2 linked regions of the Homo sapiens genome follow. The protein of the gene in region 2 purifies or fractionates together with the protein of the main gene of each other region. This does not show direct contact. Each region holds a gene or a part of one and is shown on either strand. Other genes may lie near its edges.

Region 1 (4,234 bases), on a different chromosome or scaffold from region 2:
CCTGGGGTTCCTTTCCTGGAGCAGGCAGCACTGTACTGCGTGCAGGGCGGGTGAGACCGCCAGGGACACAACTGCAGAGGTGAAAGGCCGGCACTCCAAGGTCGCGGTCTGCGCTTCCGTGAAACACTTGTGGTCGAGCGAGGCCAGGCCGTGGTCTTGGTGTGGGAGTCACCAGGCTGGGTTTTCTTTTGTTTTTTGAGAGAGGGTCTCGCTGTGTCACCCAGGCTGGTATGCAGTGATGTAATCACAGCTCATTGTGGCCTCAACCTTCTGGGCTCAAGCAATCCTCCCGGCCCAGCCTCCCAAGTACCTGGGACTGTGGGTGTACTACCGTAGCCAGATAATGTTGCTTTTTTGCAAAGACAGAGTCTCGCTAAGTTGCCCAGGCTGGTCTTAACCTCCTAGGCTCAAGTGATCCTCCTGCCTTGGTCTCTCCAAGTGCTGGGATTACAGGAGTGAGTCCCTGCTATGATCCATGCTAGGGATGACCCCCCAGCCCAGGGCTGCAACCTCAGCCCACAGGGGACACTCAGCCAGAAGGCATCACCCAGGCCCTGATCCCAGGGCCTGCCCAGCGGCACTGCCCACACACACCTGGCGGGTCGTGGAAGAGGCTCACCACGCTCTTCTCCGGGGTGTTGAAGAAGGCCGCAGCCATGGAGTTGTACTCGCCATCTGCACAAAAGAGCTGTGGGGTCGGGAGAGAGCACACGTTGGGAGGGGAGATGAGCTGGTGGGCTGCAGGCACAAACCTGGTGTCGCCGTGAGAGGCCGTGTACCCTGTGCCTGGCCAGCATCAGGCGCGAAACCACACGATCCTGCCATTGGGTCAGGGCCACGGTCACAGAGGGCAAGGAGGACACACAAGGCCCAAGCCATGGTCACGGAGGGAAAGGAGGACACACACGGCCTAGGCCCAGCAGGGGGCCGTGTCTAGCCCTGGGGGGTGGGTTAGCAGGACCATGGGCTGAGACGCTGTCCATCCCTGGTGCCGGGGAAGGTGGGCCCAGGCGCTCACATGAGCTCCTAGAAGAGGCTGTTGGCGCCCCGGTGCCACAGGCCCAGAGCCTCCTGGGCTCCAGCAGCACAGGGGGTGTTATCCACGGGGCTGGAGCAGAGTGTAGCAAGGCTGGTCAACCCCATGGCCCCGGGCCTCCCACGTCTCTAACGGTTCACACCTGACCCGTCCCATCCTGCCCACTCCCGCCGTGGCACCCACTGGTCTGCTGGGCCTCTAGGCTCTCCCTGTTCTGGATGTTTCATGTTAATGGGGCTACGTCGCGTGACCTCACGTGTGGTTCCTCTGAGCGTAGTGCTTTCCAGGGCAACCGTGTCACAGTGCAGATGGACGCACGGACGGCGGTGAGCCGTGAGCGCCAGGCACAGGTCCAGTTGTGGACGGAGGTTTGCATTTCTCCTGGGTCCACATCTATGGTGCCCCCATAGGGCGCCTGAGGCTCGCCCCGTCAGGCTGCCATTCTGGGAAGAGGACTGGGGGGAGCCTCTGGCCCCCATACCACCGCCCATTCCCCTGGCACCTCAGCAGACACCTGGCCTCCTCTGAGATCTGGGTGGACAGGACTAACCCTCTTTGAGACACGCCAGCCCATGCGCTTCTGGAACTCGGCGGGGTGGGCAGCCCTCCTCCCGTAGCCTAAGCGAGCCTCCTGGAGGCCGCCCTGTGGCTGCCCTGCCTGCTGGACCCCGCCCGGGCCCAGCCTCCCACCTGCAGCGGGTAGGACATGGAGCCCCCCTGCAGGGGCTGGCAATCCCGCGACGAGTAGATCAGCACGAAGGCAACTGTGGCCGTGACGGCGGCCACCAGCACGGCCTCAATCACCTGCAGGCAGGGCCGGTGGATGTACCTGGAACCAAGAATCAGGCTGCATGGCAGGCAGGACGGCAGCGCGGCCCCTCCGCAGGCCCCATGGCAACTCGAGTCCCTGATGGAGGACACTGGGCCCGTGGTGCTTTTTGTTTGTTTGTTTTTGTTTTTGAGACGGAGTTTTGCTCTTGTTGCCCAGGCTGGAGTGCAGTGCTGCGATCTTGGCTCACTGCAACCTCCACCTCCCAGGTTCAAGCAATTGTCTTGCCTCAGCCTCCCGAGTAGCTGGGATTACAGGCGCCCGGCTCTACATCTGGCTAATTTTTTTTTGAATTTTTTAGTAGAGACGGGGTTTCTCCATGTTGGTCAAGCTGGTCTAGAACTCCCGACCTCAGGTGATCCACCCGCCTCGGCCTCCCAAAGTGCTGGGATTATAGTCGTGAGGCACCGCGCCCGGCCAGGCCTGTGTTTAATCATCAATCAGGCACCCAAATGTCCTGGGGTCGTCCTCTTCCCTGGGGTAAAGACTCCTCGGCAGCAACTTCTCCAGATGTGTGGGAAGTGGCGCTACCCGTGCCCCGGCTGTACCCGACAGTATTGAAATCAGCACAGACCAAGAAGGAAGAAGCCGGGGGGCCCCGGTGTCCCAGGACAGCTGCGGTTGCTACCAGGCAGAGCCAGGCGGTGAAGGTTGGGCATGCCTCGCCCAGGCCCGATCCCACGCAGGGCCTCACTTCCTACCCAGGGGCCGTCCTCCAGGAGCCCTCGCACTCCTAGCCTTGGGCTAGTCCGTCACCCTCCAGGCCCCGGGACACATCTCTGACCAGCTCCACCGGGGAAACCATCAGGAAGGACGCTGCATACACAGCCTTTCTTTCGGCTGTGGCCTAGGAGTGTAAACCCCATTCCACCACGTCCGCTTTCAAAGGGCCTGTGTGGCCACGCCTGCCAACGCGATATGCAATGCGGTTTCTCCTCACCTGATTCGAAACATGGTCAGCCAGTAGTTCAAGGCATTGAACACTGCTCCAAGCACACCGCCTGCGAACAGGGGAAAGGCCAGTCAGCGACACCGGAGGAAAAGTGCGGGCCTCCGCCCGCCGGCTCCCAGATGGCAGGAGAAGCTGGAGGGTTTGCAGAGGGAAGGGGACGGCAGGGGGCTAGGGGGTCCTGGTAAGATGCTTCCTCCACATCATCACACCCTGAGGGCTGGGGGAGCTGTTTCTCAAAGGCTCTGCCTTCCTTCCAGGGCAAAGGTGTCCAGCAGAGCAATAAATACTGGTGGGAGCAATTCTATCTCTTACAGGAAATCCCATCCATCCCTGCAGCCCTGTGGTTTTTGCCAACAGAGATAAACAACGGGAAGCCACAGAAGCGAAGCTTTGGGCTCCCCACTCCCCACGTGTACTGCCCATGGAAGAATCTGGAGGCCCCCGGGTGGCCCTGGGATGAGGGCAGGCTCCAGGGAGCCACAGCCTCCAGTCCTCGTCTCTATGGCCACGTCACAGCTGAGCCAGGCCCGCAGGCCGTCCCTGCGGTGCTGGGAGAAGCCCTTACCCACCACGCCCATGGCGATGAAGACCGGGATCTCGTGGATCGTGTAGGCCATTTTCTGTGCAGAGAGAGGGAGAAGGCAGAGGATGTGAGGGAAAAGGCCCACAGCTCCTTTCTGCTGAAACTCAAGGACCACCATCTTAAGAGAGCTGTCCCCACAGAGAGCCTTCCCGCCCTTCCACGCAGGCTGCGGAAGTCCACAGGGGAGAAACACACTGGGTGTTCTGAGCAGGCCTGGCCCCTGCCTGGCGGGGTGGCCAGCGAGGCTCTCAGAGACCCTGCCACCCTCAGCACCCGGGGCGGGGAGGGCCCCAAGCACTGGGAACATAGCCCGTGGTCCCCCAGTTTCCTGCGCACAGAGCCGCCCTATCGATGGCACGGAGAGTCTCCCCAGCCCAGGCCCCAGGCTACCCTGGAAACTAGGCCTGAGCCCACCTGCCCCGAGAGCGGCTGCTGCACGTGCCCCCAGGCCGTGGGAGGCCCCATGCACGCAGCAACTGTGTGACATCCCAGGTGCCCTGCTGGTCACATGGTGCCCTGACCTGAGGGGCAGCTTGGGGTGTCTTCCTGCAGCCCCTCGGGGCCCTGGAGCTTACACAAGAGCTCTCAGCTCCACAGCTATCAACCAGAGTTTTCTAAAGGACCAAATTCTCAACCTGGGCCTTAAGCAAACAGGGTCCTGGACCAGGATACGAGGTGGGCGAGGTGGGCGATGGGGCAGGTTACCTCCGAGTCAAACCTTCCGAAGTTGATGAGGCCTGGGCTGGACAGGTCCCACATGTTCCCGTGGTAAATGCTCAGAACAAAATTCAGGGTGAACGTGGAGATCATGGAAGCAAAGAACTGCGGCAGAGG
Region 2 (5,632 bases):
CTCAATAGATAACTTCCAGGAGCCCGGCGCCAGGGCATGATGTCCCTCAGCAAACATTTTGGTGGCAAGGCAGTGTGAGTTTGCCCACATCCTGCATTCATGATAAACAGTTCGCTGTTTGATCATATAGCCTCCAGCGGAATGCTGAGTTGGTCACGTCCCGCGGGCCTTTGGCTCCCTGCAGGGTAACTCTGTCTTAGGATAACTCTTAGGCTCCACCTTAGGGTAACTCTGTCTTAGGCTCTTAAACTCTTAGGGTAACTCTTAGGCTCTGTCTTAGGGTAACTGTCTTAGGCTCTGTCTTAGGGTAACTGCCCTGTCTTAGGGTAACTCAATTCTTCATCACAGCTGCAGGTCACCTACTTGCAGAGGAAGAGTCTGCTTTAGTCACCTGCCACGTGGACAAGCTTGGGTGCATCCTAAGGATGTCGGTTCAGAGGGAGAAGGTGGCTGGGTGTCATGTGTTTAGTCCCTTTTCCAGCTTCACCAGACAGGCAGGTCACTGCTGCCACAGGGAGAGGGGCTGAGGGGCAAAGGGCACCTCTGTGGTCACTCTTGCCTGGAGACACAAGGCCCTCCTGAAGGACCCCTCAACACTTAGGAGCATTAGTACAGCGGGATTAAGGGCTTTTTTTTTCTTCAAATTGGACAGAGGGACAGACTGCTGAGGAATACATGTGGATTCTTTCCTTCTGTGACACTCTGAAAGAATTGTGACTGGGGCATGGGGTGCCACCTTCAGAGGCAGGAGTGTTTAGGAAATGCCACAGTGGCACATGACCTGCGTGGGCTCCAGCAGCAGCAGCAACCTGCAGGGTAGATAGGGCAGCTGAGAACACGAGAGCAGAAGGGCGGTGACTCTATCATCTCGGAGGGTTCTGTTCAAACAACATTTTCTAGTATACAATGAAAAGAGACCTGGTGCCAGGCATGGTGGCTCATGCCTCTAATCCCAGCACTTTGGGAGGCCGAGGCAGGTGGATTACCTGAGGTTGGGAGTTCGAGCGAGACCAGGCTGGCTAACGTGGCGAAACCTCATCTCTACTAAAACTACAAAAATTAGCCAGGATTAGGCACGCGCCTGTAATCCTCAGCTCCTTGGGAGACTGAGGCAGGATAACTGATTGAACCCAGGAGGTGGAAGCTGCAGTGAACCGAGATGGTGCCACTACACTCCATCCTGGGTGACACAGTGAGACTCTCAAAAAAAAAAAAAAAAAAAAAAGAGGCCTGCTAGTACTCATCTCATAGGGCTGTTAGGAGGAGTAAGTGAAATCAGACATACAAAGCATTTAGCTCAGCTCAACCAACGCTCATTCTCGCCTTGTCCCCACTGCATAGCCCCTAACCCCAAATATCCCAACATAGCTCATAACAATAAGATTCTTGTTTCCCCAACATGTTTAATTTTAAGAATAGAGATAATGGTCAACTCTTGAGAAGAACCAAATGCTGGTGCCATCTTGGAAGTGCTACATCACCTCCTCCTCTTACTTCCTTGAACAGCAATATTTCTGGATTTCTTCTGCAAGCCCCAGGCAGTGCAGGATGCGTTTCTTTTCAGCAGCCAGTTCCTTCTCAGAGAACTGGCCCAAGAGTTTCTGGACAAATATATTTTGATCTTTCAGAAATATGTTCTTATTCACTCCTACATTTGGCACATTCTCCAAGGACCCAGACTTGAAATGGAAGCTTAAATATCTGTTTCGTTTTAGACCAGGTCCTTTTTCTTCAATCCATGACAGTGGACTGCAAAGACAAAAGACAAAAGAATCATGTTAGAGATTACACAAGAGCACAAGTGGGTGCTTGCTGGCACCAGACCGCCTGGTAACATGTCCTTGTCAGGCACCCATCCTCCTTGCAGCCACCAGCCTCCCAGAGGCTGTGGGTGACTGTGTCAACCTCACAGCCAAACAGTCTTTAATTTAATTTTGCCATCAGGCAGGGGAATTCATTCAGTGACTTTTTTTTTTCTGGGATGGAGCCTTGCTCTGTCACCCAGGCTGGAGTGCAGTGGTGCAATCTCGACCCACTGCAACCTCTGCCTTCTGGGTTCAAGCAATTTTCCTGCCTCAGCCTCCCAAGTAGCTGGGATTACAGGCGCCTGCCACCATGCCTGGCTACTTTTTAAAAAAATATTTTTAGTAGAAATGGGGTTTTGCCATGTCAGCCAGGCTAGTCTTGAATTCCTGACCTCAAGAGACCCACCTGCCTTGGCCTCCCAAACTGCTGGGATTACAGGCGTGAGCCACTGCACCTGGCCTCCCATGACTAGTTTTAAAAGCTCATAGTACAGTCTAGCAAATGTTCTGGGAGATGGCAACAAAGATTAACTTTTATTTTGGCACTGAATAAAAATAAACTTGAGGTATTCTACGTAGTCTGCCTAAGAAAATTTCTCATGTCTTTTTTTTGAGATGTTTGCTCTTGTTGCCCAGGCTGGAGTGCAGTGGTGCAATCTCGGCTCACTGCAACCTCTGCCTCCAGGTTCAAACGATTCTCCTGCCTCAGGCTCCCCAGTACCTGGGATTACAGGCACCTGCCACCACGCCTGGCTAATTTTTGTATTTTTAGTAGAGACAAGGTTTCACCATGTTGGCCAAGCTGGTCTTGAACTCTCAACTTCAGGTGATCCAACTGCCTTAGCCTCCCAAAGTGCTGGGATTACAGGCGTGAGCCATTGTGCCCGGCCTCTCATGTCCTTTTAAATAATATGGAATCTTGGGATTTGAGGGAATGCAGAATGTCAAGATCTTTCTTGTACCTCAATTTCCTCACTAGTAAAAATAAGTAATGGTAATAAGTATACAGCTTTACCTATCTTGCTGTGACATTGTGAGATAAAAATGCAGTTTGTGGCCAGGCGTGGAGGCTGATGTGGGTGGATCGCTTGAGCCCAGGAATTTGAGACCGGCCTAGACAGTATAGCAAAAACCCATCTTACCCAAAAATACGAAAATCAGCCAGTCTCATAACCCGGTCTCAAAATAAATAAATAAATAGATAAAAAAATTTAAAAATGCAATTTGGGACACGGAAAGTACTATGATTTTAAGAAGTTACTATTATATTATATTAACTGCTCTCTGTCCCAATCCCTCATCTGATGCTTGCCTCTCCTGTGCAAAAATGAGAGCCAGGGCTGGGTGCAGTGGCTCATGCGTGTAATCTCAGCATTTTGAGAGGCCAAGGTGAGCAGATCACTTGAGGTCAGGAGTTCAAGACCATCCTGACCAACATGGTGAAACCTTGTCTCTACTAACAATACAAAAATGAGCCGGGCGTGGTGGCAGGCGCCTATAATCCCAGCTACTCGGGAGGCTGAGGCAGGACAATCACTTGAACCCGGGAGATGGAGGTTGCAGTGAGCTGAGATCACACCACCGCACTCCAGCCTGGGTGACAGAGCAAGACTTTGTCTCATAAAAAAAAAAAAAAAAGAGAGAGAGAGTCAGCCTCTGCCTCCCCAACATCTTGCTTCCTCATTGACTTCTACTCAACTTCAAGACCAAACAAGGCACCGCCTCCCATCAGAACCATGAGCTGACCTAGTCCAGGTTCCCCTTCCCTGTGCTCCTACAGCACCCTACAGTATCTTTACCTCTAATTACAGGGTGCTACAACTGTCTGTGTATAGGTCTGACCACGGCTGCAATCCTAACACTCACATGGCCACACCAGAGCCCGGGCCACCACTGTTGGTCACTCCATAGGGAGCACTGCCAAGTTCCATGTGCTTTGCTTTCATCTGCCAGGCCTCTCTGCCTTTTCCTAGCGAAGAAGAAACTCCTCAAAATGGACTAGATCAGGCTTCATTCAGGAACTCAAATTCTTTTTTCTTTTTAAAATACCCAGTGTCTGCTTCTTTTACTACCAGGAGACCCACCTCTCTGCAAAGGCATCCAGAAACACTCTAAAACCCTTACTGTTCTAAATAATTTACAGAGCCCAGGTGCTTTGGGAGGAAAATTATGAATGTGCTTTTGTTAAAAAAGACCTGGTATGAGAAATAAGTCAGAATGTTTTGGGAACAGTGTGACAGGGTGATGGGATGCTAAAGCTGAAACACAGACCCTCACACTCTGGCTGCACTGAGGGGTGAATGTGTGGCCCTGCGGGGAACATGTACAGTGTTAATGGCAGGGTCTAGGGAGTAGGTGGATGGGTGTTTACTTAAAAATTCTTTCAACTTCACAATATGCCCGAAAACTTTCATAAGAAAACACAGGAAAAAAATCAGGTCACAGAGTTAACATAATTTCTTTTTCTTTTCTTTTTTTTCAAGAAGGAGTCTCGCTCTGTTGCCCAGGCTGAAATGCAGTGGCCTGATCTCAGCTCACTGCAACCTCTGCCTCCCAGGTTCAAGCAATTCTCCTGCCTCAGCCTGCCAAGGAGCTGGGACTGCAGGCATGCACCGCCACACCGGCTAATTTTTGCATTTTTAGTAGAGACAGGGTTTCACCATGTTAGCCAGGCTGGTCTCAAACTCCTGACCTCAGGTGATCCACCACCCTTGGCCTCCCCAAGTGCTGGGATTATAGGCCTGAGCCACCACGCCCAGCCAAGGTAATGTAATTTCCACTACTAATCTGCTATGAATGACTTGCATGACTTAGGCAACCTGCTGGCATTCTGTAAGCCTCTGTCTACTGACTGGCAGATGGGATTATGTTTGTCTTCTTTACCTCACAGGGCTGCTGAGAGGATGAGATGAGGCAACACAAGTGCAATCTCAGCACTCCATCTGCAGAAGCAGACAGCCCTTCTGGAGCTGGGAGTGAGGGTCTAGCCCCTCGGGGCTCCCTTTGGATCATACCTGCAAATGTACTAGGATGTCCTTAAATTTCCTCCTCCTCATGGCTTCTCATGACTTACCTTTTCTTCTCTGTCTCCAGACACACTGTCATTTTCATATACTGATCTTCCTTTCGCTCTTCCAAAGTGGCAGACACAAGAGAAAGCTCCCCAAAGAGGGAGACCAGCCAGGTCAGGCGAGAGATGCCGCTGAATGCAGGGAAGCCAAACCGCTCTTCTTCCAACGGGCCAGCTGTGGGAAATCACAAATGCTGTGGGAACTGGGAAGCAGGAATGCCAAGTGGAAAGCAGGACAGGGGGGTGGGGGTGGCGGGGGTGTGAAAAGATGTGGCCGAGTGATCAGTACAATGGGACCTTGCCTTATGTGGTAGGCAGGCAACGTGATTAATGATACTGATGAAAACTCAGGTGGCTGAACTTCAACTCTATCATAAAAGCATCTCTGTCTTTTCCTGTTTATTAAATTGAGTTTTAGTAAAACATTCTACTGGAAACAGCAGTCAATCCAGCCAAACAGGATAATAAAAAAGTTTCAGGCTTCTAATATATACATCTATGTACACATATGTAGATATACATACACACACACACACACACAACACATACCTACATATACATATATATATATCCTCTTTAGTGATTTAAAGTAGTCTGGTAAAAGTAGAAGAATCAAAGTATTTTAGCCCTGCAAGCCTGTATTCTTATAACTACCTGATGTGTAAGTGGCAATAAGGTATGAAGGTATTATAATAGCTATGGAGAAAATGGTAATACCTTTGAGCTATTTCAATATCAAGAAAATTGATACAATGTT

What was found. Proteins that work in one complex are often made in the same cells at the same time.
Region 1: the proteins of BLVRA (region 2) and CLCN7 purify together in Homo sapiens (affinity purification with mass spectrometry; one large-scale study listed by BioGRID and IntAct). This does not show direct contact.

What each region holds. Positions count from the first base shown.
Region 1 is NC_000016.10:1,451,029-1,455,262, forward strand, and holds part of CLCN7 (H(+)/Cl(-) exchange transporter 7), read right to left. Parts: intron 4,223-4,234; coding exon 4,106-4,222; intron 3,438-4,105; coding exon 3,383-3,437; intron 2,867-3,382; coding exon 2,806-2,866; intron 1,866-2,805; coding exon 1,727-1,865; intron 689-1,726; coding exon 595-688; intron 1-594. UniProt on the Homo sapiens protein: Slowly voltage-gated channel mediating the exchange of chloride ions against protons. Functions as antiporter and contributes to the acidification of the lysosome lumen and may be involved in maintaining lysosomal pH.
Region 2 is NC_000007.14:43,803,094-43,808,725, reverse strand, and holds the end of BLVRA (biliverdin reductase A), read right to left. Parts: intron 5,051-5,632; coding exon 4,879-5,050; intron 1,750-4,878; coding exon 1,491-1,749; 3' UTR 1,384-1,490; downstream 1-1,383. UniProt on the Homo sapiens protein: Reduces the gamma-methene bridge of the open tetrapyrrole, biliverdin IXalpha, to bilirubin with the concomitant oxidation of a NADH or NADPH cofactor. Does not reduce bilirubin IXbeta.